7 linked regions of the Homo sapiens genome follow. The protein of the gene in region 5 purifies or fractionates together with the protein of the main gene of each other region. This does not show direct contact. Each region holds a gene or a part of one and is shown on either strand. Other genes may lie near its edges.

What was found.
Region 1: the proteins of LSM1 (region 5) and RAB14 purify together in Homo sapiens (affinity purification with mass spectrometry; one large-scale study listed by BioGRID and IntAct). This does not show direct contact.
Region 2: the proteins of LSM1 (region 5) and ZMYM1 purify together in Homo sapiens (affinity purification with mass spectrometry; one large-scale study listed by BioGRID and IntAct). This does not show direct contact.
Region 3: the proteins of LSM1 (region 5) and PI4KB purify together in Homo sapiens (affinity purification with mass spectrometry; one large-scale study listed by BioGRID and IntAct). This does not show direct contact.
Region 4: the proteins of LSM1 (region 5) and IL36B purify together in Homo sapiens (affinity purification with mass spectrometry; one large-scale study listed by BioGRID and IntAct). This does not show direct contact.
Region 6: the proteins of LSM1 (region 5) and PATL2 purify together in Homo sapiens (co-immunoprecipitation; one large-scale study listed by IntAct). This does not show direct contact.
Region 7: the proteins of LSM1 (region 5) and NBDY purify together in Homo sapiens (co-immunoprecipitation; one study listed by IntAct). This does not show direct contact.

What each region holds. Positions count from the first base shown.
Region 1 is NC_000009.12:121,191,470-121,195,535, forward strand, and holds part of RAB14 (ras-related protein Rab-14), read right to left. Parts: intron 1,951-4,066; 5' UTR 1,944-1,950; coding exon 1,892-1,943; intron 756-1,891; coding exon 702-755; intron 1-701.
Region 2 is NC_000001.11:35,103,135-35,107,200, forward strand, and holds part of ZMYM1 (zinc finger MYM-type protein 1), read left to right. Parts: intron 1-1,160; coding exon 1,161-1,335; intron 1,336-1,422; coding exon 1,423-1,635; intron 1,636-4,066.
Region 3 is NC_000001.11:151,324,278-151,328,856, reverse strand, and holds the start of PI4KB (phosphatidylinositol 4-kinase beta), read left to right. Parts: upstream 1-1,440; 5' UTR 1,441-1,586; intron 1,587-2,483; exon of another isoform or gene 2,484-2,677; coding exon of another isoform or gene 2,678-2,685; intron 2,686-3,939; exon of another isoform or gene 3,940-4,112; intron 4,113-4,579. UniProt on the Homo sapiens protein: Phosphorylates phosphatidylinositol (PI) in the first committed step in the production of the second messenger inositol-1,4,5,-trisphosphate (PIP). May regulate Golgi disintegration/reorganization during mitosis, possibly via its phosphorylation.
Region 4 is NC_000002.12:113,032,204-113,036,269, reverse strand, and holds part of IL36B (interleukin-36 beta), read left to right. Parts: intron 1-3,413; exon of another isoform or gene 3,414-3,613; intron 3,614-4,066. UniProt on the Homo sapiens protein: Cytokine that binds to and signals through the IL1RL2/IL-36R receptor which in turn activates NF-kappa-B and MAPK signaling pathways in target cells linked to a pro-inflammatory response.
Region 5 is NC_000008.11:38,165,928-38,169,993, reverse strand, and holds part of LSM1 (U6 snRNA-associated Sm-like protein LSm1), read left to right. Parts: intron 1-76; coding exon 77-192; intron 193-4,066. UniProt on the Homo sapiens protein: Plays a role in the degradation of histone mRNAs, the only eukaryotic mRNAs that are not polyadenylated. Probably also part of an LSm subunits-containing complex involved in the general process of mRNA degradation.
Region 6 is NC_000015.10:44,676,561-44,680,626, reverse strand, and holds part of PATL2 (protein PAT1 homolog 2), read left to right. Parts: intron 1-2,763; exon of another isoform or gene 2,764-3,722; coding exon of another isoform or gene 3,723-3,761; exon of another isoform or gene 3,762-3,900; intron 3,901-4,061; coding exon of another isoform or gene 4,062-4,066.
Region 7 is NC_000023.11:56,815,398-56,820,082, forward strand, and holds the end of NBDY (negative regulator of P-body association), read left to right. Parts: intron 1-1,922; 3' UTR 1,923-3,782; downstream 3,783-4,685. UniProt on the Homo sapiens protein: Promotes dispersal of P-body components and is likely to play a role in the mRNA decapping process.

The sequences.
Region 1 (4,066 bases), on a different chromosome or scaffold from region 5:
TACTGGGATTACAGGCATGAGCCACCACACCTGGCTAACATATACTACTTATTATACAATGACAAGTTATATATGTCTAAGCCAATTAACAAATTTATTAGTCCTTTCCTTATAATGAGGCCACTTAAAACCTAAACCCACCATTCTCCAGTACAAGGACACAGACTTCTGGGCACTTCATAAAATGTTACATCAAACCTCTGTGGTAAGCAGCACAAAAATGTCAAAGAAATAATTTCAACTATACAGAAACACTTTCAACTATATTTAGCATATCAGTTACAACACATTGGTCCCTTCTATCACCCAAGAAAGAGTAGAAAGAATTCCATTTTAAGTATTTCAAATCTGTTATTTAACAAATGATACATGCAGCAAATTTCTCCTAATAAGACAATCAATTCCTGTAACAGAAAGTCAGAGAATAAAAAGATTAAGTTTGACATTATTTTATGTATTTTTAAAAATTATTTTAACATCAAGAAATCAAAACAAGCAAATCAGATTATATAATGTGTATAAAAATCAACCCTAAAATATGCTGGCATATTTCATTTTATCTGTACCCATTTAAAAAAAGTACAAATATAGGGAAAGGTTATATTTAAATGCATGAAGTATACTGAAAATGACACTTTCTAAAAAGTAGAAACATGGCGATAAAGAAAACTATTAATGTTTACCTCATGTATTGAACTTACATTTTTTTTCTGTAAATTGATGAAGCAAGCAAGATTTTCCTACTCCCATGTCCCCTGTTTAAAAAAAAAGAAGTTTCAGGTGGCAATTACATTTCTCAATTTTATGCAATGATCGCTATATTCCTTACCATATAACATATCACAAGTTTCTGGGACACTTAACAAATTTTTATTTTCCTACTTTATAATGATTCAAAAGTTTTCACTGTGAGACACAAATGGAATATTATTCCCAATCTTTAGCAGTGACAGAATTTGGCTGTAAATTATTACTGTTAATAAATAGCCACCAGCTGGGAAGTGCTTATTTTTTTAATGGAATTTTTTTTACTTTGAGCTGTTTCAAAATTTTATGTTTTTGTTTTCTTTTGTTTTTTTCCTTAAACTCATGCATAAAAGCAACAAATTTCAAAAACTGACAAATGGGGTAGCATGTAACAAGCAGAAATAACAAACTGAGTTCTGGAAGCTTGATTCACTAGGTCCCTGTCTTATACTTCTTGTATTATTCTATGAAAGAAAAGAATTTGCATTACATGAAAACCCCAGGAGAAAAGATGTCATCTCTGACTGTACTATAGCAATGTTAACCCTTGATGAAGGAAACATTAGAAAGGACACATTAAGTTCAACATGAAAGCAAACTGTTCTAATGTGAACAATTCATTGAAAAACGTGTACTTTCAAATGTAGTTTTATGTTTGGATAAATAGCATTAAGACTTAATTTGAGCAAAACCTTCTTGAAACTTAAGGAAAAAAACACCAATTAAGAAAAATACTATATTTTATATATATTACACAATTGATTTGGAATCAAACAATATTCTCTACCAATTTTTCCTTATAACAGAAACCCAGGGGAATCTGAGAGCTTTCACAGTATTTTAGGAATGTTTCTGCACTCCTTGAAACACTGATACTTCCTAGCATCAAAAAGCTTTCAAGCAGCCCTCAAGAACAATGAACATCACTTCACAAGGTACCCACCAGCACTGTACCACAGAAATATCCATGGCCACAATGCAAAAGCTGCATTGCTAATGCAAAAATAAATCTTATAAAAGGAGTTTTAGTTTTACAGTAAGAAAATCACTCAGTCCTGAAGTGGTACTGTTTAAGTATTAACATATAAATATTTTGTATGTTAACCTTCTTTTGGGAACAAGAGTGTAAGTTAAATAAACTTACCAATAATAATATATTTAAAGATGTAAGAGTAGTTGTATGGTGCAGTTGCCATGGTGGCACTAAAAACAAAGAAATCTCTGTTACTTCAGAAGGAAAGCATATACAAGTAATTCAAACGGATGACTGATATCCTTTAAAGGTAGAAAAGGACACTGAATACAAACAAATGTTGGTTACAGTAAGTCAAAATAAAACTGCATTTCACAAACTGATCAAATACACAAATTCTCTTGGATGAATGATGCTTACACATTCTCATGTGCTATCCACAGAAATATAAGAAACCATTTATACCACAACTCCAATATTTCACTTAATATCCACTAGAACTTAAAAGTATAATTTAAAAAAAATCCAATAAGTATTAATCTGAAAATTGTCAAACAAAAAAATCTTTATAAATTTAAGTTAAACATCACTATAGTCTCTTCTCCCCTTAAAGTCCCCTTCCCTGTTAACTGATCAAGTAAGTTACTAATGATCTACTTGTTCAGAACTCTGATATTAAACAGAATGGTATATAAAGGAACCACTTAATTTATAAACACAAAACAACGTTTTTACTCTACTTTAAATCAACAGTTAGCAGCGCAAAGAGCAATCGTATGATTTCCAAATCAATGTTGGAACTAGACTGAATCACATGAAACTGTTCTTCCTATAGATTTTTCAAGTCAAAGTTTATTGGCATTTTCATATAGCTCAACCTAATACAGGACTTGCAGATTATCACTCACACACACACACACACACACACACACACACACACATTTTTTGAAGACCAGGCTGGTCTTGGGTCTTGAACTCCTGGCCTTAAGCGTCCCTCCCATCTCAGTCTCCCAAAGTGCTAGGATTACAGGCATGAGCCACTGTGCCCAGCCAGATTAACAACATAGTAAGTGCTTCCCATACACTATTCTAGGGACTGAAAGAAATAATGTCATAAAATTGTACTTATGGTTGCAAAATTTGAAAGCTTGTGTATTAGAAGATATTTCAAAAGATCACAGCCCATTTCTTACCCTCAAATAGACTTAACCTAAAGAATTCTAATTTCTCTTCTACTTAAAAAGAAAACAAAAAACTTTCCAATTTATTCAAATGAATTATCTGAATGTGTAAGACACGTGCTAGGTCCTAGAGAGAAACAAGGGGCTGAACTGTAAAACTGGTAATAACTTTCAATAAAGTTTATTCTCAAACCAGCTTTCAGCTTAAGACAAAAATTATTTATACATATAAAGATTTCACCCATTTAAAAAAATCTGACTTACAGTATTTTTAAGCCTGGCTTTTAGTGTTTCTGTCAATGTCACATTACACAAGCCAGACATTTAATATGACTGGAGAAATTTATTTACTGAAATTATCACCTTACTATATACCATATTTCAAGCAAAAGTTCTATATAACAACATTGAACCCGTAGAAAGAATATATATTTAAAACAAGTGTATTATTATAAGGGAAGAGGAAGTTGTTAATTACAGTAAAGTATTAATCACTTCCACACACTACAGTCTTCTCACTTAGCTATCTGTATTACATTTAGTGAAAGTAGAAGCCTTGTTACCCATTCCAGTTTGGCATGTTCTAACACATTTATAATCAGTCTCCTGCATCACAGAAAACTCCCTTAACCAGTTCTTTCAGGAAAGGGAGTTTTTCTAGTTAGATTAACTGATTCTGAACATCACAACAACTTTATTCCCTTTTCCAGGCACTAGGAACTCAAAACTTTTAAGAATGAACTTGGTCCTGAGACTAAAACTGGTCTGGATTATTTACCTGATCTCTGAACCAGATGCCAAACACAAGGGGGAAAAGTAATCTCTTACATTAAAAATATTTAAAGATTATTAACTTCTTAACTTGAATTCTTCCGACTCTTCTAATCAATTTTTAATTCTTCTAAATTCTTTCCCCATTCAAACCTGGGTAAAAGTAATCACTTAGTCACCTTCAAATTACTGTCTCTTCTGTGCTCTTCTCCCTTGATTTTCCTAATTTCTTTCCCTCTTCTAACTAAAGGTTGTAGCTGTACATACTTTGCTCCTTCTATTTTATGTTAAAGCTATGACTTCTAACAATCCCAAATTTCTACTTCAAATGCTTTAAAGACTATCATAAAATTGTGACCCAATTTTAGTTGTACTAATTTGTGTACCTGCTAAT
Region 2 (4,066 bases), on a different chromosome or scaffold from region 5:
AATTAACCATTTCATTGGCATTTAGTATATTCATAATGTTGTGTGACCATCCCCTCTATCTTGTTCCAAAACATTTCCATCACTTCAAAGTAAAACACCTTAAACACTAAGCAGTTTCTCCTAATTTCCCTCTCCCCCCAGTGCCTGTCAACCACCAGTATGCATTATATCTATAGATTTTATCTATCCTGAATATCTCATGTAAATGGAATCATATATGACCTTTTTGTGACAGGGTATTATTACTCTGTTGCTCAGGCTAGAGTGCAGTGACTTTTTGTGTCTGGTTCTTTCCCTTAGCATAATATTTTCAAGGTTTGTCCATGTTGTAACATGTATCAGTACTTTATTCTTTTTGTTAATAGGCGAATAATATTCCACTGTATGTATGTAACACAATGTGCTTATTCATTCATTCACTTACTGATGAACATTTGGGCTGTTTTCATCTTTTGACCATTGTGAATAGTGCTGTTATGAATATGCACGTACATGTGCTTGTTTGAGTACCTGTTTTCAGTTTTTTTGGGTGTTTACCAAGGAGTGGGATTGCAGGGTCCTACCATTAGCTTTGCAACATCAGTTGCAAAGTGATGTTGCAAACATCAACACGGTGAAAAAGCAAATAACATCTTACTATGAAAATAGTTTTGATCTTGGGGACTCCCCCAGGGATTTGAAGACCATATTTTAAGATTCTCTGTCCTATAGATTCTAGAGTTGCTCATGTGAATATGTGATCTCTCATCATCCCTCGGTTTTCACTAGCACCACCTAATAATACAGGCTGGCTAGTCTCCAAAACTACATCTTCAAAGTCAGGCATGGTGGGATTATGTGCCTGTAATCCTAGCTATGTGGGAGATTGAGGTGGGAGAATCTCTTGAGCCCAGGAATTTGAGGCCAGCTTGGGCAACACAGCAAGACCCTATCTCTTAAAAAACAAAACTGCACTATTAGATGTGCTTTATAATCTGTAATGTATAGATGAGAAAATTAAAATTTAGGGAGTATAAATGTGACAGAACTGGGTACCAAATTCAGGTTTTCTTATTTCAAGGCTAATGTTCTTACTCTAATTTGAGAGGTCATTTCATTTATAAAGAGAAGTTATAATTGTGTTTAAACTGTTTAATGATGTCCTTGTTATTTATTCTTAGAGACATTTTAAATCCAAAGGATGTGATTAGTGTCCAGCTGGAAGACACTACCTCTTGCAAAACTTTTTGCAGCCTATCTTGTCTTTCATCATATGAAGAAAAAAGAAAACCATTTGTTACCATATGTACTAATAGCATTTTGACCAAGTGCAGCATGTGCCAGAAGACTGCTATTGTAAGTTCCAATTATAACCTTTACAGGGATTCTGATGATTCTGCTTAAATATCAGAGTTTTTACTGAATCTTTTTATTAAATCCTAGATTCAGTATGAAGTAAAATACCAAAATGTGAAACATAATCTTTGCAGTAATGCCTGCCTTTCAAAGTTTCACTCTGCTAACAACTTCATCATGAACTGCTGTGAGAACTGTGGCACTTACTGTTACACCAGCTCTAGTCTGTCCCACATACTTCAGATGGAAGGACAGTCTCATTACTTTAATAGTTCAAAGAGTATTACAGCATATAAGCAGGTATGAATAAAGACCTATTGTTTCTTCTATTAACTGGCCTATGAATGGTTTCACTCTAGGAAAATGTGGGAAGTAGTTTTTGGTACCCTTTGGAATAATGTCGATAAGTTGATGAAGATGAAATAGAAGGCTTTTAACGGTTTCTTCTTGCATAAGAATTCATGATAAATGCTATATGGAGATTTTCCTAAATAATCTCAGATCGATTATCTCACCTTAAAGAAAAGGCAGGCAGGCTGGAGCCGGTTTATAAACTAGAAATAAGTATAGCAAAAATAACAATAGTCTGCTGGTCAATAAAACCCAAACACAAAAGTATTTTTGTTTTTATTTTTATGTATTTATTTTATTTCTTTCTTTTTTTTTTTTTTTTTTTTTTTGGTGAGATGGAGTCTTCCTCTGTCACCCAGGCTGGAGTGCGGTGGCGCGATCTCGGCTCACTGCAAGTTCTGCCTCGCGGGTTCATGCCATTCTCCTGCCTCGGCCTCCCAAGTAGCTGGGACTACAAGCACCCGCCACCACCACGCCTGGCTAATTTTTTGTATTTTAAGTAGAGATGGGGTTTCACTGTGTTAGCCAGGATGGTCTCAATCTCCTGACCTCGTGATCCACCTGCCTTGGCCTCCCAAAGTGCTGGGATTACAGGCATGAACCACCACACCTGACCTTATTTATTTTTTTTGAGACGGAGTCTCGCTGTCTTGCCCAGGCTGGAGTGCAGTGGCACAATCTTGGCTCACTGCAACCTCCGCCTCCCAGGTTCAAGCAATTCTCCTGCCTCAGCCTCCCAAGGAACTGGGATTACAGGCGTAAGCCACTGTGCCCAGCTATTTATTTTTTTTATTTATTTTGATTTTTTTGAGACGAGGTCTTTGTCAGCCAGCTTGGAGTGCAGTGGCAATCATGGCTCACTGTAGCCTTGACCTCCTTAGCTCAAGTGATCCTCCCACCTCAGCGTCCCGAGTAGCTGGAACTACAGGCACACACCACCACACCTGGCTAATTTTTAATTTTTTTGTAGAGACAAGCTCTTACTATGTTGCCCAAGCTTGTCTTACAACTCCTGAACTCAGCTGATCCTCCTGCCTTGGTCTCCTAAGGTGCTGGGATTACAGATGTGAGCCTAGCCATGTTTTTGTTTTTAATTCCACGTGTTTAACTCTTACACCAAACAATGCAAAGATGAATCAAGAATGTCACATGTGGACAGTCATGGTGGCTTACACCTGTTATCTCAGCACTTTGGGAGACCAAGGCGGGAGGTTCAGTTGAGCCAGGAGTTCAGAACCAGCCTGAGCAACATAGCAAGAACCTGTCTTTAAAAAAACAAACAAAAAATATCACATGCTTTCTCTGAGTCAGTCATAGGAGGAAATAATCCAGTGAGATTAGTATTATTTGTCCCTATTTCTGATAGACAAGCTCTGGGTGGGTGCTTCTGAGAGCAGAGAAAGAGCAAATGAGATGAGGTGGGACTTCTTAGATATGTTGCTTGTTCATATCATATTTTGAGACCCAACTCTATCCCTATACAGACTTCCTTAAAAACAAGCAGTTGGCCGGGTGCAGTGGCTGATGCCTATAATCCCAGCACTTTGGGAGGCCGAGGCTGGCCGATCACCTGAGGTCAGGAGTTGGAGACCAGCCTGGCCAACATGGCGAAAACCCGCCTCTACTAAGAATACCAAAATTAGCTGGGCATGGTGGCAGGCGCCTATAATCCCAACTACTTGGGAGGCTGAGGCAGGAAAATCTCTTGAACCCGGGAGGTGGAGGTTGCAGTGAGCCGAGATGGCACCATTGCACTCCAGCCTAGGCGACAGAGTGAGACTCCGTCTCAAAAAAAAAAAAAAAAAAAAAAAGCAGTTGAAGATGGGAGTCAAAACAAGCCATAATTCAAATAGATCATTTGTGACTCACATCTTTTCTATGGCCCCCATCTTGAGAGTATCCTGCCTTGGGACCAGAACGGAAAGCACAGAAGACTTCTCCCAAAGGCAGGAAATAATATTCCTTTTTTTTTCTTTCTTTCTTTTTGACACTCAATAGGCCTTGTTCTGGGTTGTTTTTTGTTGTTGTTGTTGTTGTTGTTTGTTTTTTGAGACGGAGTCTCGCTCTGTCGCCCAGGCTGGAGTGCAGTGGCGCAATCTCAGCTCACTGCAAGCTCCGCCTCGCGGGTTCACGCCATTCTCGTATCTCAGCCTCGCGAGCAGCTGGGACTACAGGTGCCCACCACCACGTCTGGCTAATTTTTTGTATTTTTAGTAGAGACAGGGTTTCACCGTGTTAGCCAGGATGGTCTCAATCTCCTGACCTCGTGATCCGCCCGCCTCGGCCTCCCAAAGTGCTGGGATTACAGGTGTGAGCCACCGCGCCTGGCCGGCCTTGTTCTGTTTTTAAAAGCCTATATGCCGGGCACGGTGGGTCACGC
Region 3 (4,579 bases), on a different chromosome or scaffold from region 5:
ATGTCTTCTTTGTAGACATAGAAACTGAGGTTTAAAGAGGTTACATTAGTTATTCCAAATCAAACGGCTTGTAAGTGGCAGGGAAGATGGCATTCAAGACCCGGGCTCAAATAACTAGCCTCAATGTATTAAGTAAGGCACTAATGAGGGGCATTGCATATTAAGTAAAGCCCTAGGAAAGGCATTGAGATAGAGGTTCTGAGGACAAAGAGGGCTCTAAATCAACAATCTTAACCGAAAAATACACAAAAAACTTGCTGGGCGAGGTCGGGCCTATAATCCCAGCACTTTGGTACCTGAGGCCGGCAGATTGCTTGAGGCTAACAGTTCGAGACAAGCTTGGGCAACATAGCAAGACCCTGTCTTTACAAAACAAACAAACAAACGAAAAATACACAAAAGCAACACCAGAGGCCCATTTGCATGGCGTGTTTTTGTTTATTTGTTTGGCCTAATATGGTTTCGTTTTGTTTGGAAGAAGGGATTGTGCCCTCCAAGCCTTTGTCGTTTCACTCACCTCTCCCAACCTGGCCCTGTCCAGCCCCTCCCTGGAGGGCTGGGCATATGGATGCTGGAGGTCACAGGCTGCCCAGGCAGGTTGGTGACCTCGGAGGCAGAACCACGGCCTCGAGTCGGGCCTCTAACGGCGAAAAGACTGACGCGGTTGGACCGCGCCATTCCCGAAATGTTAAGGAGCTTAAACTCCGCATCGTCCTCCAAGATAAGTAGGAAAAGGGCAGTCAGAAAGAACGTCTTCCCCGTCCGCCGTCTTCCTGCGCGCCCTTCTAGGAACCCAGCGTCCATCCCACGGCCTGATTTACTAAGGGAGTCTTGTAGCATACGGGAGGGGGAAAAGTCATTGATTGCAATTACGGTAATTTGGTTAGTTACTCAAACGGTCGTTTACATATAACTTGCATGTTAATATACTTCTGGAAGTATGCATATGTCCATACTTCTTTAACAGGGCACCCACGGCCGCCTGCTCACCCTACTTATGCAGCAAATTTTACTTCTCTCTCGGCTTCTTTAGCCTCGCAAACGCTATCGCTTAGGTCCGCTTCTTAAATATTGGCCCCTCCTCCCACCCGTAAGCTCCTCCCTTCGCCCTCTCTCCCTCGAGAGCTTCCAAACATCTTTTCCCCGCCCCCTTTTCTATTTCTGAACAGGCATGTTCCAGGCAGCTCACCCGACTCCTTAGATTACTATGGAATCGGTAGGGTCCTGACCGCTGGGGAAGCAGGAAAGCGTATCCTGGGAAGAAAGGCTTGGCTTGGACTCCGGAGAAGAATACTACATCGAGACCTGCTGGGGAATTTTATTTTATTTTATTATTTTTTTGGTCTTGGTTGTACTGAGGGAGGAAGAAGAGGTTGTGTGGCCCGGTCGAACTTGTGGCAGCCTGAAGGCCCCCTCAGGCGGCGCCGCGGGCAGCCCCGCAGCCGGGGCCTGGTGCAGCCTCCGCGGCCGCTGTCAGGGAAGCGCAGGCGGCCAATGGAACCCGGGAGCGGTCGCTGCTGCTGAGGCGGCAGTGTCGGCAGTCCAACCGCGACTGCCCGCACCCCCTCCGCGGGGGTCCCCCAGAGGTAAGCTACTCCTCCTTCATGAGTCACCTTTGCCCTGTTGGGTGGGGGGGGGGGTCCCTCTCCCACCCTGTCCCGCACAGTCTTCCCCACCTGAGTTCGACTACGAAACTGCCCTCTTGGTGTCAGCTGCACCCCGGGTTCCTTCTCCACCCTTTCCTCTCAGGCCTGGGGTCCTCCTCCGCTTTTTGGCTTCCTCTTCTATTAGCTCCTCCCTCTGCCTCGGGGATTCCCCCCTCCCTCACTCATCCCTGTTGCCTACGTCTCGAATAATTCTTTTTTTTAAGTCATGAACCCTTTCCATATCAGACGACTCCCATAATGCCCATCCTTGTCCTTCCTCGTCGTCTCTGCCCCTGCCCCAAACCTTTTCCATGGACTCCACCTTTATCTCTTTTCCTAGTTTGCACTTTTCCTCCTATGTCCCTGTGCAACTCCAGCACTGGGTTCCCATTTCCCTGAGCTAAAGATTGCATCCCTGTCTTCCTGTGCTGCTTCTGATTCCATTACCTCACTGTCACCCACCTACCCAGCCAGCTCCTGGCTTCCAAGAATTGCCTGTTCCCTTCTCCTTAAGGGATCTCGGGCCCTTGTCATCAATCCAAAAGTACCATTTACATTCTTACTTTGAACCTAGTCCTCACTCTTCTCTGGGATGCATTATGATCCCTATAACTTTCTTTAGCTTCTCTTTCTCCCTCCTCAATCCCCCAACTTTCTAGAGGTTTCTGTCTGTAGGGGAGAGATTTGACAGTGCCCTTCCCATTCAGGATTTCCAACTTTGACACCTCCCTCGAGTTTCAGGGATTTCTCTGATCCTTGTGACATTTGTTCTGTTTTTCCCGTGGGCTTCATGTGTTCTCTGTTACACTCTTTATCTCCACATACCACTTATTTCAGGATCAACTAAACCTTGAACTAAGAAGAAAAATGTGTTGTGAGCAGGGGGAGCCTCAGCTGCCTCAGGCCGTTCAGGACAGAAGGGTGTTTCTGAAGGCCGGAGCAAGTTTTGAAGAAGTCCCTATCAGATTACACTTGGTTGACTACTCCGGAGCAGCCACTAAGAGGGATGAACAGGCCTGCGTGGAAATTGAATGAGATTGTGAGAAAACTTGTTTCAGATTATTTAATTTTAGGCTTTTGTTAAAGGAATCACAGAATAGAGTGCCTTCTCACCCCTGTCCAGATCCATGAGGAATCAGTTTATTCTTGTGGTTTACTAGAATAGTTTTGGTTGGTTCCATAAGAATTCAGGCCTGGAGTGGGGTAAGGGTATAACTGGAAAAAGGAACATGAGACAATGGAAAGAGCTTGTACATTCAGAATCGGGACTCCTGGGTTCAGCATGTGACTTCCTCACTTGACCTCTAGAGTGATCCTTTTGGAAAATGCCCACTCTCTGTAGGCATCAGTGCAGTAATAAGTTGGTAGCAGGATGTGGGTTGGGGGAAAAAATCAGATTTGGTTTATTTGTTTACAAAACATTTTGGGTTCCTCAGGCAAAAGGTATTTATTAGTAGTGGTTTAGTCATCCTGAGAATTTTCCTTCACCTTGGTCTTTCTGTCAGATGTTTCTAGTCCACAACCAGGGGTGTAAGTCATTTTGAAAGACAAGCTCCAGGCCTGCTTCCTTCATCTGCTTTGCTTTTTCCCCCAGTGCATTAAGTGGCTGATTTTCTGTCCTGTTCCTCACGTACTTGATCCATAACTCCAGATTCTATAGGTAGAAAGTATGTTTGTGGGAAAGCACTTTGAGGAAGCTGGCTGGAAAAGAGAACTTGGAGTGAACTGAGACTTAGGCAACTAGTTGCTGCCATGTCTCTCTCAGCCTGTGATAGCGAAAGGGCACGTGAGATTCCATTCATTTTCTGATTCTAGGTCTGTTTGGGAGTAGTTATGTCATCTTATCCCACTTCCTTTCTCTTCCTTGTCGTTAGTCATGGTGCAGTCTCCTCATAATTCCCCTTATTAGAAGCTTTCCTGCCAGGCGCGGTGGCTCACACCTGTAATCCCAGCATTTTGGGAGGCCGAGGCAGGCAGATCACCCGAGGTCAGGAGTTCAAGACCAGTCCGGCCAACATGGTGAAACCCCATCTCTACTAAAAATACAAAAAATTAGCCGGGCATGGTGGCGAGCTTCTGTAATCCCAGCTACTCCGGAGGCTGAAGCAGGAGAATTACTTGAACCCAGGAGGCGAAGGTTGCAGTGAGCCGAGATCACGCCACTGCACTCCAGCCTGGGTGACTGAGTGAAACTCTGTCTCAGGAAAAAAAAAAAAAAAAAAGCAGCTTTCCTCCTTGGAAGCATCCCCAACCAGAAATCATATTTCCTCTCATTTCCCTGCTTTCTTCTTAGAGTTGAGTCCACGCTCCATGAGAATGCTGAACACCATCCAAAGCAGCAAATTGAGATTCCTTGATTTGGGGAAGAGGTTTGGGAGGAACCCTTCAATAATTGGCATGGGACAAGAGGGGACCCAGTCCAAGTGTATTTGGGACTCGCAGTAGGGAGGAACAATTCAGAGAGAGGTGAGTGCACAGGCTGCTTTCTTTGCCATCTGTTTCAGTAGCGGCTCCCATAGCTGGCTTGGGCTGTCTGGCTGGAATCTGCTTATACCAGCTCCATGGCTCTGCACAGAGTTCTCAGCCTGAATCAATATTGACTTAACTACCATGAGACCACTGCCCTCCCTACCCTCGTGCTAGTAGCTTGAGAATGCCCTCTCCCCTAATGCCCACACTCTCTGGGCCCTTGTGTCAGCAGTTACCTGGATCCTGGTAGGGCTGGAGCTGGCTTGACTGCCTGGCCCTGAGTTTCTATAAGGAAAAAGGAGTACTCAATCTCTACCTTTACCATTGAGGTCAAAGGGGAGAGATGAGTTGAGACATCCTTAAAGAAAGGTTTGAGTTAGACATTAAGACATGAGGAGGAACTCCTCAACAGCAGAACAGGCAGTCAAAGATGATATGGAGTCTCTTTTGAGGAGCAACCTCTC
Region 4 (4,066 bases), on a different chromosome or scaffold from region 5:
TTGCTTTAAAAATAATATAGAATCAGGCCTGGTACGCTGGCTCACGCCTGAATTCCAGCACTTTGGGAGGCAGAGGCAGGCAGATCATTTGAGGTCAGGAATTCAAGACCAGGCTGGCCAACATGGCAAAACTCATCTCTACAAAAAAAATACAAAAATTAGCCAGGTGTGGTGGTGCATGCCTGTAACTCCAGCTACTTGGGAGGCTGAGGCAGGAGAATTTCTTGAACCCGGGTGGGGCGGAGGTTTCAGTGAGCCAAGATCGCGCCACTGCATTCCAGCCTGGGCGACAGAGCAAAAGAAAAGAAAAAAACAAAAGAATCGAAAAGTGCAAAATTACCAACAACAGAGCCCTGACCATTTCTTCCCCACCAAATCCTACTCTCCTGAGGCAACCACTTCCCTTCTTTTATCTCAATCCTCTGATCAGTCAGGAAAGGCATTGTCTATGTCAGAGACACAGCTTCATCCTGGGAATCTTCACACCTCCTCCCTGGGTGAAGCCATTATTCCATGACTCTTGGGATTGCCTTCTTCTTAATCTATTTCTGTTTCTAACTCATTTATTTATCTCACCCATTTATTTACCATCAAGTCATCTAGGTATAAACATCAAAATATTTTTGTTTTTTCCTTTTCTTCTTCTTTAATTTCTACTTTCGATGTTGCTATATTCACTTGCTTTTTTTCTCACTGGATATCAGGTCCTCTAACAACATCCCTGCCAAACTTCACAACTTTCTTGTTGCTATTATTATTTTTTTTTTCAGAAGAGCTTCTCAAGATGGTGGGCATAGGCGAATGGATCATGTACCCCTACCAGTGCTGAGATGTTAGGGGCCAAGAAAAAGCACAGGAAAGGCAGAGTTCTTGCAGCACTGGCTTTGGGTTTGCAGAGGGAGGGGTTCCCACAGTTTCTGGTACAGTCTGATTTCATTTTATTTCAGTACACCGTGTGTGTAGTTTCTTGGACAGGGTGACTGACCATCAGTGTCACCCTGTCTGTCTTCATCATTAAGCACTCTCAGGACCTGAATAGATCCCAGATTCAAATTCTTTTCATGGTTGGACATCCTATCACTTGACCCATTGATCCCTTGGGGAAAATCTCATGGTTCCAACCCTTCTGCCAACCACTGGCTTCTTTGCATGGAGTCATGAGAGCCTTCAGTCTTCCACACTTTAAATGTCTAAAAGTTCTGAGTTGGGGTGGGAGTTTCTGCCAAGTTCTTCCAAGGAATGTGACCCCATAGTTTCTTTAGGCTCTGCTGGTGCTGGGAAGGTTAGAGCCTTGTCTGTATCTCTAGAGTACACCACACTTCAGTAAAATCACATCAGGGTCTCCCTGAACTCCCTCACCACACACTGCCCTGGCCAAGGAGCCAAGGTGAGCCTGTGGGTCTCTAGGTGTGCCAGTCATCCAGATGGGGGCAAAGCTGCCAGTCCCACTGACTGTTTGAGTGATTCTCTTGGGAGGCTCCATCCTGGCGATAGGAGAGCATCCCCTGGCCCTTCTCCATGAGGAGGTCAAGAACTCACCTCTCACCACAAGTGATGCCTTTCCTACAAAGCATCCCACTCCCCTTTTCTCTTCCCTGTCTTCCTCTTATTCATGAGATACTACATACATTTATTTGTTTATCAAAAAATATTTGTTAGTTCCCATAAGAGGTCCGCACCATTCCTGCCACTGAGCACATAGTTCTCTGGCCTCAAGACAAAACAGGTTCCCTGGCCCCACAGAACTGGCATTTTGGTAGTGGAGATAATAAATAAATAAATAGATGGATAAATACATTTTCCAAAACCATGGAAGCATACATTTTATGAAGAAAATAGTTGAGCAAAATAAGGGGCTAGGACATGGGTGAGGGACTCTTGGAGATAGGCTGGCTGGGGAATACCTTATTGAGAAGTTGGCTTTTTTGCATATGCATGGAAGAAGCGAGGGAGTGGACCACTTGTTGACCTGGGGAAGGCTGTTCCTTCAGAGGAACAGGAAAAACTCCCTGCAGGCGAAGATAAGCTTGCAGGGCAAGAAAATCAGCAGAATCCAGTACATCCAGAGCAGGGAAGTCAGATGGGCAGGGATAGAAGGCAGCAGAAAGATAAAGAGGACCCAGATCATGTGGGCTTGGTGAGGGCTTTGGTTATTTGGGGCATAAAGCAAAGCTATTAGAGGGTTCTGTGCAAGAGAGTCATACGACTTTATTTACATCTTTGATTCTGGTCACTGCTAGGTGGACATCTGACTCTAGGGAGGTAAGAACAGAAGCAAGGAGACTATTGCAATGCTCCAGAAGATAGAGTCAATGGTGGATTTCCAAGAGCAGAACCACAAAGAGTGATTGGGAGTAGGACTGACCAATAATATTCGGTTTCAAGAGTAATGATTTTCTTTCATAGCCAACATTGAAGCCGCGTCTGACTCCTAATTCAGAGTTAGAAAGCCACAAGACCTCCAAGTTCTCTCCTCTCCTCTCCTGGACACATTATAGATTTTTCAGTATCCTCAACTGAATGCAAGACTGTGTTCCGGCTAGTGCAGTATGCAGGAGACTATGACCCAGGGGAGGCATGTCACATAATCATTAAGAATAGAGAGACTTGGCTTCTAACTTGGCTAGATTTCTTAGTAGCTGTATGACTTTGGGTACATTCTGTCATCCCTCAGAGCCGCTGTTTTCTTACATGAGAAATAAAATTAATGGCCCCTAAAGAGTTGTGTGTGGGACGGGTGCAGTGGCTCACGCCTGTAATCCTAGTACTTTGGGAGGCCGAGGCGGGTGGACTGCCTGAGCTCAGGAGTTTGAGACCAGCCTGGGCAACACAGTGAAACCCCTTCTCTACTGAAATATAAAATACAAAAAACTAGCCCAGTGTGGCAGTGGGTGCCTGTAGTTCCAGCTACTCGGGAGGCTGAGGCAGGAGAATCACTTGAACCTGAGAGGCGGAAGTTTCCATGAGCCGAGATCGTGCCACTGCACTCCAGCTTGGCGACAGAGCGAGAGCGAGACTCCATCTCCAAAAAAAAAGTAAATGTAGCGTGAAGATTAAAAGGTTACTCAGGTAAAGCTCTTACAACTTTAGCAGAAACAGAATAAGCTCTCAATATTTGTACCATATAAATGTGACATGGTGGGTGTGTAAAACTCCTGCAAGGAGTACTGTGATTGGCCTAACATCAGATGCAAACACAGCAATGGCTTCATGCAGTTTAGTGGGTCAAGAGAGCCACACCTCTGCCTCCAAGGGAGACACACCTCTGCCTCCAAGGAAGACCAGTAAAGGCACTCTCCTCAACTCAGCATCTGGCCTAATCCGCATTTCCTCATTGCTGTTTTCTGATGTTGCCTCTGCTCTTGTTAATCAGGAAGCACAGACCAGTCATGCTTGTGTTGCTCCACTGTCAGTCCTCCAGAGCCTCAAGAGATCTTTGGGCCATATCAGCTTTCTTTCCAAAATGAACACACCCAGGGGCAGGAAAGAATGCTCTTTCCTTGGTCATTAAGGGGCCTGGGAGTCCTGGACCAGCTTTTCATGCAGCTAGACCACTTACATGCAACTAGAGCCTTGACTTTGAAACGAGGGACAAAAGCATCTCTTGCTAAAGGTAACTTCTGCTGCTTAGAACCCAGGTATGGGGAACTTCTTTCATGTCTCTGTGTTTAGCCTCGAAGTGCCTCTGGGAGTCTTGTCAAAGGTACAGAGTACTGAAGGATCCAGGGCTGCTTACAAGGGTGCAGGTTGGTGATCTGCTTATCCACTGTGTAGGGACAACTATTGAATCACACATCAAGGATCCTGAGAGAAGGAGGGTTGTGAACAACTGGTTCTCATTGTGGAGTGTCTGTGATATTCTTGGGGACTGTTCTGGTGCCCTAACTAGAAAACCAGAGGCAGATGATCCCTAATAGTCAAAGCACCTTGTGGGGCCCTCAGTGGCCATGTGCATGATCCTTACAGATGTCTCTTTGGATGAGGAATGGAAGAAGATGGGCTCAGTGAGGCAGGTTAGCTACAAATTACTTAGGAGTGTTCAGCTTCAAGTCAGGAAAAGTGGTGA
Region 5 (4,066 bases):
AACTGATTATTGAGTTATGGGCCTTTACCCAGTAGTTTAAACTAAATATCTTTGGTTTTTCCCTATACACTTACAGCAAACTTAGTGCTACATCAGACTGTGGAGCGTATTCATGTGGGCAAAAAATACGGTGATATTCCTCGAGGGATTTTTGTGGTCAGAGGAGAAAATGTGGTCCTACTAGGAGAAATAGTAAGTGAAAACTATTAAGCTGCTGTAGATCTTCATATTCATGCTAGTTAGACTTCTTTTTTTGTCTTTTCAAAAGAGAATAAAAATATTCTCCACATTTATCTGGCTTCTCCTAGGCAACTACCAAATTAATTTAGGGAAGCTACAGAGAATACTTTGTTTCAGTGCCTTAACAAATGTGTTCATTAATATATTTGTTTAATAGCAGAAAATTGACAAAGCTTGATTTATATATGCTGGGGAAGGTGTGTCTTACATACGTTGGAATATTTTGCAGTCATTTAAACAATTGGTTACAAGTGGTTTTTCATGGCATAAAGCTAATGCACAGTATTTCAGGGAAGTACATATTGCCTGTACAGTACAATGTGATATCCATATTAGTAAAGGGGGAAAGGGAAAGAGTAGCTATAGGAAAAGCTTTTCCGTTACCTATCCCGAGAATGGAGTTCAGTCTTACTTGGATCCTTAGCTCACAGCCAGGGAGAGGGTATTTTGGTATCTGTGCCAGAAAGACCAGCTGGCAGGTGAAAGGTTAAATCAGATTTTCTGAGGTATTGTTGCTGTAGGTCTTCGTGTGTGCAGACATACACACACACACCCCTACTAGAAGTACTCAGATTTTTTTTTAAAGTATCTTATTTAAAACCTTTGATTTCATCTTGTTATTTCTGATTATTGGGTTTGCAAGGAAAATAAAAATCTCTTCAAGAGTAGTTGAAATTAAGGGTTGAGCCAGCACTGTCTTCTTTTTTCTTACCAAAAACTTTGGTGTTTGCTTAATTTTTAAAGTTTTTAATACTGTTTTCTAAATACCTAGCCATGTCTTAAATCAGTTTGCAGAAATCTTTAGAGTGGTTTGGTTTGTAGCCATTTTTAACAGCCATTTGAGAAAGCAAGGAGATAATTCTGCTAGGGTTGGGTTGGTTCAGAGACCTCATATTGGAAATAGCTAGAAATGACTAATCCAGACTATCAATACTGCCCAAGTGAAATATATGAAGTATATGAAATATATGAATATATGAAATATATGCTGTGAAATATATGAAATAGCTTTTTCTTACTTATAAAATATTTATAAGTAATACTTATAAAAATTTTTCTTATAAAATATTTTTGTAGTTTGTACTTTTAGTTCAGTGTATCATTTCTTGCATGTTTAAGCAGCAGAAATTGTTTTTTGTTTTTTGGGTTTTTTTTTTTTTTTGGGACAGAGTTTTGCTCCTGTTGCCCAGGCTGGAGTGCAATGGCATGATCTCAGCTCACTGCAACTTCCGCCTCCCAGGTTCAAGTGATTCTCCTGCCTCAGCCTCCCGAGTAGCTGGGATTACAGGTGCCCGCAACCAAGCCCAGCTAATTTTTGTATTTTTAGTAGAGACGGGGTTTCACTATGTTGGCCAGGCTGGTCTCGAACTCCTGACCTCAGGCGATCTACCCGCCTCGGCCTCCCAGTGTGCTGGGATTACAGGCATGAGCCACCGCGCCCAGCCAAGCAGCAGAAATTGTTATCTTCTTGTGTCGCATAAAGGCTGAAACAAGGCCAGGTGCGGTGCCTCACGCCTGTAATCCCAGCACTTCGGGAGGCTGAGGCGGGCGGATCACAAGGTCAGGAGATCGAGACCATCCTGGCTAACACAGTGAAACCCCATCCCTATTAAAATACAAAAAAGTTAGCCGGGTGTGGTGGCGGGCGCCTGTAGTCCCAGCTACTTGGGAGGCTGAGGTAGGAGAATGGCATGAACCCAGGAGGCGGAGCTTGCAGTGAGTCGAGATCGTGCCAGTGCACTCCAGCCTGGGCGACAGAGCAAGATTCCGTCTCAAAAAAAAAAAAAAGTCTGAAAGCACCTAGTACCATGGTACCCATGGGGAGACACTACATGACTGTAAAGTAGTCTGCCAGTATTTTTTTTCTTCCAGAGATGGGGTCTCACTATGTTGCCCAGGCTAGATTCAAACTCCTAGGCTTAGGCAATCCTCCTGTCTCAGCCTCCCAAGTAGCCGGGACTATAGGTACATGCCACTGTGCTTGATACTGCCAGTATATAGGGGAGCTGACCCATCTCTGCATGGTGGGGTTATAGATGATTTTTAAAAATACTTTTCTGAATTTAATTTTGAAGAGGCAACGTATCAGAGGAAAAAACTTAAGTTAAAATACTGGGGTGGGTGCAGTGGCTCACGTCTGTAATCCCAGTACTTTGGGAGGCCGAGGCAGGCAGATCGCTTAAGCTGCAAGAGACCAGCCTGGGCAACATGGCCAAACCCTGTCTTTACAAAAAAATACAAAAATTAGCCAGGGGTGATGGTGCACATCACCAGTCCCAGCTACTTGGGAGGCTGAGGTGGGAGATTCACCTGAGCTCAGGGAGGTCGAGGCTACAGTGAGCCATGATTGTACCACTGCACTCCAACCTGGGTAACAGAGCAAGACCCTTTCTCAAGAAAATATTCACAGATATGCTTCTGTTTTATAGTAGTAAACATAGCAGACATGCTTTTTATACTGGTTACATTGGCACAAAGTTACATCTAAGTAGATGTGTGTGTTTGTGCAGAGAAAGAGGTGAACGTGTTTGTTCTTGAAGTTTAATTGTTTCCTTGGATCCCTTTTGTGAGGAAAAGTTCCCTTTTTTAAAAAAATATGTTATGGTTTGGATGCTGCAGAAGTTTTACAGGGGTACCACTACAGAAACTTGGTTCCAGGAATGCCTGCATTGTTATGTGAATCAGCAATCAGGAGAAATTATGTACCAACCCCAGAGGAATTCATACATAGAAATCAGTTTCTGTAAACACTATATTGGTTAAGAAATCCCTGAATTCTGCCTCAAGGACGATGATGATGACACAGCATTAAGTAATAAGACTGTTGGGAAGAAGCAGCAACAGCAGCATGAATTGCTTAGCAAGTCACATACTGAAAAGCCCAAGAGGCAGTGCATTAGGCCGAGAACACTGTGCTCTCTTTAGCTGCTACTCATGGGTTGGGAGGGCAGGTGGTAATATATACTTTGCTGGGTGCTGTTAACTTTGGACCTAGAGCAGGGCTTGCTTATGTAATTTGTGTGGCTTTCATTGTAACTTCTGTGGTGAGAGTCCTCTCTGACTGATAATGCCACTGCCTGTGAGTTCTGAGACCTTGGCAGCATGTGGTAATAGTATGCAGGGCAGAGCATCTGGAGAAGTGTGTCAGTACCGTCCCAAACTTTTATCATTGAAAGTCATAGAGGAGGGTAAGAAACAGGAATACTTTGTATAGGCTTTCCATCTTACAAAAACACCAAATAATACCTGTACATTCATTTTAAGGACAATAAACTGAATCTATGGACAGTGAGATACTTTTTTAGCAAGGTTCTTCTGCATTATGACATTGGTTAGCAAATGTTTATAAGGGCCAGGCACAGTGGCTCACACTTTGGGAGGCCAAGGCAAGAGGATGCTTGAGGCCAGAAGTTTGAGACCAGCCTGGGCAACATAGCAAGACCCCATCTCTACAAAAAGAAAAAAGATTTAATGCCAGATGTGGTGGCACATGCCTGTAGTTCCAGCTACTTAGGAGGCTGAGGCAGGAGGATCACTTCAGCCCAAGAGTTTCAGATCATGGTGAGCTGTGATTGTGCCACTGCACTCCACCCTGGGCAACAGAGCAAGATCCTGTCTCTAAAAAAATGAAAAATGTGCTCACATTGGCAGCACATCTACTAAAATTGGAACAACACAGAGAAGATTAGCACGGCCCCTGCTTAAGGATGACACGCAAATTCATGAAGTCTTCTATATCTTTAAAAATAATTAATGAAAAATGTTTATAAAACATTCAAAAATAAAAATATTAAGCATACTATGCCACATTTAAGTGAAAAAACGA
Region 6 (4,066 bases), on a different chromosome or scaffold from region 5:
TATCCTATACACTAAGAAAAAGAAAGGGGAAAACAGAGAGGCTCAAGACACAGAGAAAAGTGGCTGAAGGGCCAAGCATCCAGGAAGAGAGTCTGGACTTGAAGAGGAGGAGAGCCCCCCACCTGGAAGTGCAAGGTGGGGGGCCTGTGGCTGTGTATAATTTCCTCCAAGTATGAATTGAAGTGGATCAGCCCCAATGGCCTCTATTTTCCCCATAACATAAGAGGTGAGGTTGACTGCTGAGAGTAGAGATGGGAGTTGTATGGAAGACTGGAGGAGGACAATGCCTATTTTTTAGAATCACTGATGAGGGATGTATGGGAAAGGCAGCTAAACAAGGACAAATTAAAGAACAGCTCAGCAGGCTGGTGATGGAGCAGTGTCAGTCATGGTCCCGACAAGAAGCAGATGGCACATTCAAGTGGTGTAACTGAGGAGCATGTCAGGAAGAGAATATTCACCAAGGTGTGAACAGGGTGAAGGGAAACTCATAAAGGCCAGTGAAGCACCCTGGAACTAGCAAGAGTGGGGAGCCTTTCCCACCCCCAGACCTCAGGGGCAAGAGGAGGGAGCAGATCCCAGATCCAGAGGGAATTGGGGTAATTTAGGAGAGGGCTGCCACACTGGAACTCATACAGCACAGATGCTGACATTATCTGAAGCCAGGCAGCCCTCTCTGTCTCCAGGTTCTGGTGACTGCTCCATCCTCTTGTCCCAGTCCCAGGGGATTCTGCTATTACTTGTGGTTTCACTATACTCTTTCTATACTTTTATAAATATAACTTTATTAGATTATCCAGTTTGAATACACCATCTATTTCCTGAAGGAAACCTGACATACATGGTTCTTTAAAAAGACTAATAAAATAGACAAACTCTAGAAAGAAGAACAAAGGAGGAGATGAATAATATTAGGAATAAAAAGGGAGACAAAGGGCCGGACGCAGTGGCTCACGCCTGTAATCCTAGCACTCTGGAGGCCGAGGCAGGTGGATCACTTGAAGCCAGGAGTTTGAGACCAGCCTGGCCAACATGGCAAAAGCCTATCTCTACTAAAAAAAAAAAAAAAAAAAAGAAAAAGAAAAAGAAAAAAAAAATTGGCCAGGCACGGTGGCTCACGCCTGTAATCCCAGCACTTTGGGAGGCCGAGGTAAGTGGATTAGCTGAGGTCAGGAGTTCAAGACCAGACTGGCCAACATGGTGAAACCCCTTCTATACTAAAAATACAAAAATTAGCCGGGCATGGCACACCCCTGTAATCCCAGCTATTCAGGAGGCTGAGGCAGGACAATTGCTTGATCCCAGGAGGCAGAGGTTGCAGTGAGCCGAGATGGTGCCACTGCACTCCAGCCTGGCTGACAGAGCAAGACTCTGTCTCAAAAAAAAAAAAAAATTAATTGGCCAGGCATGGTGGTGTGCACCTGTATTCTCAGCTACTCTGGAGGCTGAGGCAGGAGAATTGCTTGAACACAGGAGGTGGAGGTTGCAGTGAGTTGAGATCGTGCCAATGCACTCCAGCCTGAGTGACAGGCAAGACTCTGTCTCAAAATAAACAAGTAAATGAAAGGGGGCAGGAGAGACAAAGTACAGTTATAGCATGGATTTTTAAATACACTTATACTATGAACAACTTTATGCCAACAAATTTGAAAATTTATAAGTAATGGACAAATTCCTAGAAGATATATAACTTAAAACTCAAGAAGAAATTGAAAGCCAGACTAGATCTACTGCTATTAAAGAACCTGAAACAATGGATAAAAAATCTCCCCATAAAAGAGTGTTTTATGTAGCAAATGTAAATATTTCTAATGTCATTTTTTTTCTTTAAGAAAAAATTTTTAATAGAGATGGGGTCTCACTATGTTGTCCAGGCTTGTCTTGAACTCATGGGCTCAAGCTATCCTCCTGCCTCAGCTTCCCAAAGTGCTGGGATTACAGGTATGAGCCACTCTAATGTCTTTTTAAAATCTGACCCAACAATCCTGTGTACCTGTGTGTACTTCTTATTCTAGAAGAAGCTCTAACAGGCTGTGGGAAGCATCTGCTTTATTCACTGTTTACCCCAAGCCTAACATAGGCTTGGCTTGAACTTAACATAATGAAATGATGGCAGGAAAGTTAGAACATCTAGGGGATCAGTAGACATATGAGACTTCAGATAAGGGTAGGGGACCTTCATAAAAAACAGTAGGTCCCAAGTGAAACTCCAAACAGCCAGGGCAGGGCTGTGATCTTTAAGACTGAGCCCTAGTCCACCTGCTTTGGTACTAGTCAGTACCAGAAGTCCCTTCAGAATGAAAATCTTCATGCAACAAGTTTCTCCTTAAGATCTAGTCTCTACAACAACCTAATGAATCACCTCTGGAACACTGAAATTCACCATGTGGTCCTTTTGTTAATAGTGCTAAAGTACGTTATTAGGAAGTTCCTGAGAGAAACAGCTGAATAACATTACCAAAAAGGCCAGAACCCAGCTGGGTGTGGTGGCTTGTGCTTGTAATCCCAGCCCTTTGGGAGGCCAAGGCAGGTGGATTACTTGAGGTCAGGAGTTTGAGACAAGCCTGGCCAACATGGCGAAACCCTGTTTCTACTGAAAAAAAATATATATATATACAAAAATTAGCTGGGCATGGTGGTGGCCGCCTGTAATCCCAGCTACTCGGGAGGCTGAGGCAGGAGAATCTTGAACCCGGGAGGTGGAGGCTGCAGTGGGCCAAGATCATGCCACTGCACTCAAGCCTGGGTGACAGAGTAAGATGCTATCTCAAGATATATGAGAAGTTTTTCAGTAACTTTCAAGCTACTTATATTTGTTCCCCCACCCATATAGTTATGACCTGCAGTAAAACTTCTGAAACAAATATTTTCCTTTAAAGGCACCAAGAATCATGGTCTTATCACCATGACAAGAGGGTCCTAACTTTCATTTTTGATGTAGGGAAATTAACTTAGTTTTTATTCTTATTCAGAAGTTCTACAAAGTCATGTGGGTTTCAGCTGAACACAGGATGTGGGCACAGAACCCAGGGTTGCTTGAGGGTTAGATGAGACTTGGGAGGGTGTTGGGTTTTGCCTACCAGGAGCAGCTATGTTTTTGTTTTTGTTGTTGTTGATTTGTTTTTACTCCTGAGCTTCTGGACCAGTTTGCCATTAGAGCAGCCAAGAAGATGTAAGACTGTGTATCTCATGCAAAAGTGTTTTTACCATGAAGATCTGACTTCCAAATTCACAGGGGTCTCTCATCAGTCAGAGCTGAGTAGCTGACTTAAGCTCACATGACCCGGTGAAGGGCAAGCATCATCAGGTGGACTTGAGGGCTTCAAGTACGCTGCCCTGAAGCGCCAGGAATGTGGTTGCTAGGCATCCTCCCCAGGATCTACCCAGGACTTTCCTATCCAATTTTGTTGAAGCAAAACCTAGGGATTAAATTAAATGCAACCTCACAAACTACCAATGAAGGGTGTGGAAAACAGGGATCCTCTTTTTAACTATCTGCCCCCAAATATCAATCCCAATAAACTGTACTAAAAGCCATGGATGGCTAAAAATGCAGTTTATGTCTTTTCTCCATTCAAGCGTTTTTTTAATCATTAAACTATGTTCTCATATTTCCATCAGGCCCCAATGGATGGAGGATGCTAGCCCTTTAATGGGTGAGCAGGGGAGGAGCTGGGACTTTTAAAGCCAGGAGCGGCAAACAGGTCCTGGCCCAGGCTGCTATGAATAACTTAAACAGAAAGGACAGCAACAGTCAGGTGGTGGGTGTCGGCAGCAAGGCATCACCACACTCGGACGGTGACTGGTGATGTCGGTTGGGAAGTACTTCTCTTCCTGCTTCTAGCCTGTGCCTCATTTCTGTCCCTTTGTGGGACAGCTCCCTAGAGCCGAGCTGGGAGGGTGGGTGTTTATGGCAGTCTGAGACCCCAGGGTCTCTCTCCTCAAGACCATGGCCAAGAATTCTCTAACCATCTTGCTGGGAGGATTCCATGGCTGTTTTAGGGTGCCATGTCATCCTTACTGACTGAGGATGGTGCCTCTTGGCCTCTTTCTTGTCTCAGGTTTA
Region 7 (4,685 bases), on a different chromosome or scaffold from region 5:
AAATTCTATTAAGGTACAATAAATCAAACATATACTATGTTTTCTTTATCATTTATAGAAATTTAAAGTATGATAACAGGTATTTCTTGTTGAGGTGATTAGCTTGTCTCTCATACATTGGTGTTTGGAGAATTGTTTACTGAAACATTTGAAATGGTAATCCACAAATTGTTTAACTTTTTTATTATACCATCTGAGAATATGTTTGCATATTTGTGAAAACAATTGGAAACTGTCTCAGTTATGTTCATTTTGAGAATTACTATGTTTTGGTGGACACATTTGCTGGAATTTTGTGCAGATATTTTTAAAATATTTAAGTTTATGTGGTTACTATGAGATATTATTAAATAAATAAAACATGTTCGGAGTAATGTGTATAATACAAACTCATTTTTTGTAACAACAAACAGAAAGAGTTACATGTTGGTAAGTATATGTGTCTTTGATTGGTTATGGAAAAAATTATTAGGCATTTATTCCATACTTTTAACATCTTTTAACCTCCACAGATTTAGAATTGTTTTTCTGGAAGAAATTGTTAATCTTCTCTTTTATACATTTCATGTTGTTTTCCTCATTTTAATGCCTTCGTATTATATTTCTAAATATAATTTTCTTTTATAAAACATGCAAATTTTATACGAAGAAAAACAGCATAAGTAAACTTAAAGACTATTTATATACAATGTGGTTCCATTTAAAAGATAGATAATGGATGCCATTAATTCATAGAATATATAATACATTTCTTTATGTTAATACAGAAACAAAGCCTGATAGAAATATAGTCAAAGAACAGGCAATTCATAGGAGACAAAAATATATGGCCAATAATAATAATAAATATAGTTGACTTTAATATTAGGTCATCATATTTGCCACAATCAAAAAAGTCTCCAGAATTCTCAGTTTTAGAAAGGATTTGGTTAAATATCTACTGTCTATAAAATTGTACGTTTCTAAAGTATTTTATCTCTATCGTAATTTTAATGTTTGTAAGTTTTGACTTGTGTTTTATTTGTAGAATATATGGAAATAATTCTACATATCAATAAATTGGCTTGCTTGTAGTAAAAATGTTGCAAGCATATTAAATATCTTTCAACAGAATTTGAACATCTTTCAACAGTTAAAATTATACTGTAACACGATGCAATATTTTGAAGCCATTGAAATATTGAGACTGATCTATTTTTATATTAAAAATTATTAAGACATTTATAAGTGAATAAAAACAAATTGCCGAAGTGTATGCTAGGATGATCTAATTTATATTATAAACTCCAAATCTAAATTATTATATTATTATAAATACTATATATGTGTACATTTAAATAGAAATAAAAAGGTCTAGACAGAATTGATAACTATGTTTTCTTCTGTAAATAGGAGAAAGACTGAGGAATGGTAAAAGTTTAGCAGTAAGAAGAATTATGTCTATGTTGTTTGAATTATATACAGTTAGATTGTATTCATGTATTTATTCATGTATTATTTGTGTAAATAAATAAATAAATATAAAATTTCCAAGGAATATAGGAGTTTGTCAAGGGGCTATGAGGGAACAATGAGGCTGATTGATTAGTTTTGGAAGCCTAATAAAACAAGAGTAATAGCGGTAGACATCCCTGTACTTTTTGGGGGAGAAATATGCCTAAGATAATAGAAACATCTGGTCCACCTAACAGATAAATTATTTTGCATTCAAATACATTAGATACCAAAAAGATGCAGGTTATTGACATTGTATGCCTTTGATTTAATATTTATTAAGCACTCATCTAATAATTTTGCATTCTCTTTAACTTGCTTAATAGGGAAATTGGGGTGTTTTCTGCTCAACAGACATATCTGACCTGTATGATAATGGAATTTCTCATTATAAGTCAATAAACTTTTGTTCTTTCTGTATCTTTCAGTCTTATGATGTAATCAGCGCGATTTCACTTCCTGAATTTCGATGAATTCTAAGACATGGGCAAGATCGGGTTGTAAGACCTCTGAGATTTAAGGCCATGCCCTGGATCATGGTGAACTTACCAAAGCAAACAATGCCTGTGAGATGGTCCTGCAGCAGCCAACCAGTGAACTCTTTTGGTGACATCCTGTTCTTGTTGTATAACTTTATATTCCTATAAATCCATTAAGGCCCCAATAAAGTTTGTCTCTAAGCGCTGTGTTAGATCTATATGACTACATCTAGTAAATTGTGAATTTTAAGTAAATATTTTATAAGAACTCCTATGTAAAGCATTACTAAAATTAGTGTTGAAATATGACCTTCTTCCTACATTTATTCATTTATTTATGTCTATTTATTCATTTATTTTAGTGAAAAATATAAGGAAAGTAGAGGAAGGTTAAATCCAAAAAAGAATTGTTTCCAGTACACTTTCTTTAATTTGCTGTCAGTTTTTGCATGGAATCTACATCTTTTTATGCTAATCCTCATCCTAGTATTTTACATCTTAACTATTTTTTTCTGACTGAAATGGTTGATGTGCTTGTTTTTTGTAATTTTCTACTTTCCTTCTAAAATGCTTAGTATTGAACAAATAGAATATCCTAATTAAAAACAGTAATAAATATTATGGTGAAAAAATACAAGTAAAATGGGAAAACATTAGATAGCAGCTTTCAATATTTCATATAGTTCATAAATGTTTCAGGAATTACAAGGTTATAGAAAAAAATTTATAGACTATAATAATTTCCAGGGATATAAAAAAATAAAGCTTCTACCTTTGAATTGTAATAATAAAAGATAAACAGACTTGAAAGCATATATTATATCTGAAAATGTCAGATAAACTTGGCTTATAAATTAAAATATAAAATAATAATACAATTTGTTCAAATAAGTAATTAAAGCTTACATTGTAAAATGAATATTTAGAGAGATTGTGAAACCTGAGTATTTTACCCAATCCTCTGAAATTAGTCCCTAGCATCAGAATTAAAGAATCTGAAAAATCACAAATGGAGGTATGGTGACATTTATGTATATTCTAGAGTTATGTTATGCACACTTAATAAATTATAGACAGTTATTTTAAAGATTGTATAATATTACTAATCACACATTAGAGTTTTAAAACTTCTGAGCCAGGCTGAACATCACAAACAGTAAACACAGACTTCTTTAAAAGGACATCTGGTGAAAGGCATTTTATGCATCAGAAGGCACAGTATTATAAAGATGACAACACTCTTCAAAATAATCAAACTATTCAATGCAACCCTTATCAAAATTAAGGTTGCCTACTTTGAAGAAATTTATAACCTGATTCTAAAGTTCATATGAAAATGTAATGGACCCAGAATAGCCAAAACAATCTTGAAGTATACAAAGTTTGAAGAGTCACATTTCCAAATTTTAAAACTTATTACAAAGCTACAATAAACAAGTCTATGTGGTACTGGCATAGGATATAAATATTGATCAATGAAATAGAATCCAAAGTCCAGACATAAGCCCTCACAAAAGTTAATTTGCAGCCAATTAACTTCTGAGAAGGAGGCAAGACAAAAGGGGAAATAACTATTTTCAATAAATGGTACTGGGACAACTTGGTATCTACATGCAAAAAAAAAACAAAAAAACAAAAAACTTCCACCCCTACCTCATGCAAAATACAAAAATTAACTCAAAATAGGCCAAAGACTCAAATATAAGGGTTACACTATAAAACTCTTGGGAGGAAATATAGAATAAATTTTTGTGACCTTGAATTAAGTATTAGATTTTTAATTCTTACACCAAAGCACAAGTTAATAAAGGAAAAAAAAGATAAACTGGACATAATTAAAATTGAAAAAAAATTTGCTTCAGTGAACACAGTCAAGAAATTTGAAAGACAGCCACAGTGCAAGATTATTTTTGCAAATAATATGTCTCATAAATGACTTGTATCTAAAATATATAAGACCAGGCATGGTGGCTCATCCTGTAATCCCAGCACTTTGGGAGGCTGAGGCAGGGGGATCACTTGAGGTCAGGAGTTTGACACCAGCCTGGCCAACATGATGAAACCCCATCTTTACTAAAAATACACACACAAAAAAAATTAGCAGGGTGTGGTGGTGTATGCCTGTAATCTTAGCTACTCAGGAGGCTGAGGTGGGAGGATAGCTTGAACCTGGGAGGCAGAGGTTGCAGTGAGCCAAAATTGCACCAATGCACACTCCAGCCTAAGCAACAGGGCAAGACGCCATCTCAAAAAATAAAACAAAATAATAAAATAAAATAAACAGTAATTACCGCTAAATAATAAAACAAACAATAAACCAATTTTATAACGAAAGGATCTGAATAGATTCTTCTGTAAAGAAGACATACAAATCACAAATTACACATGAGAAGATGCTCAACACTATTAGTCATCAGGGAAATGCAAATCAAAATCACAAAGAGACAGCAATTTATACCCAGTAGGATACTTATTATTATTATTATTTTAAATAGCAAAATAATAAATGTTAGAATGTGGGAAAACAGGAACATGCGGCATTGTTGCTGGTAATGATAAATGTGCAGCCACTGGGCAAACAATTTTGTGGTTCCTCTCTAAGTTAAAAATAATGGCTGGGCGTGGTGGCTCACACCTGTAATCCCAGCACTTTGGGAGGCTGAGGTGGATGGATCACCTGAGGTCAGGAATTCGAGACTAGCCTGACCAACA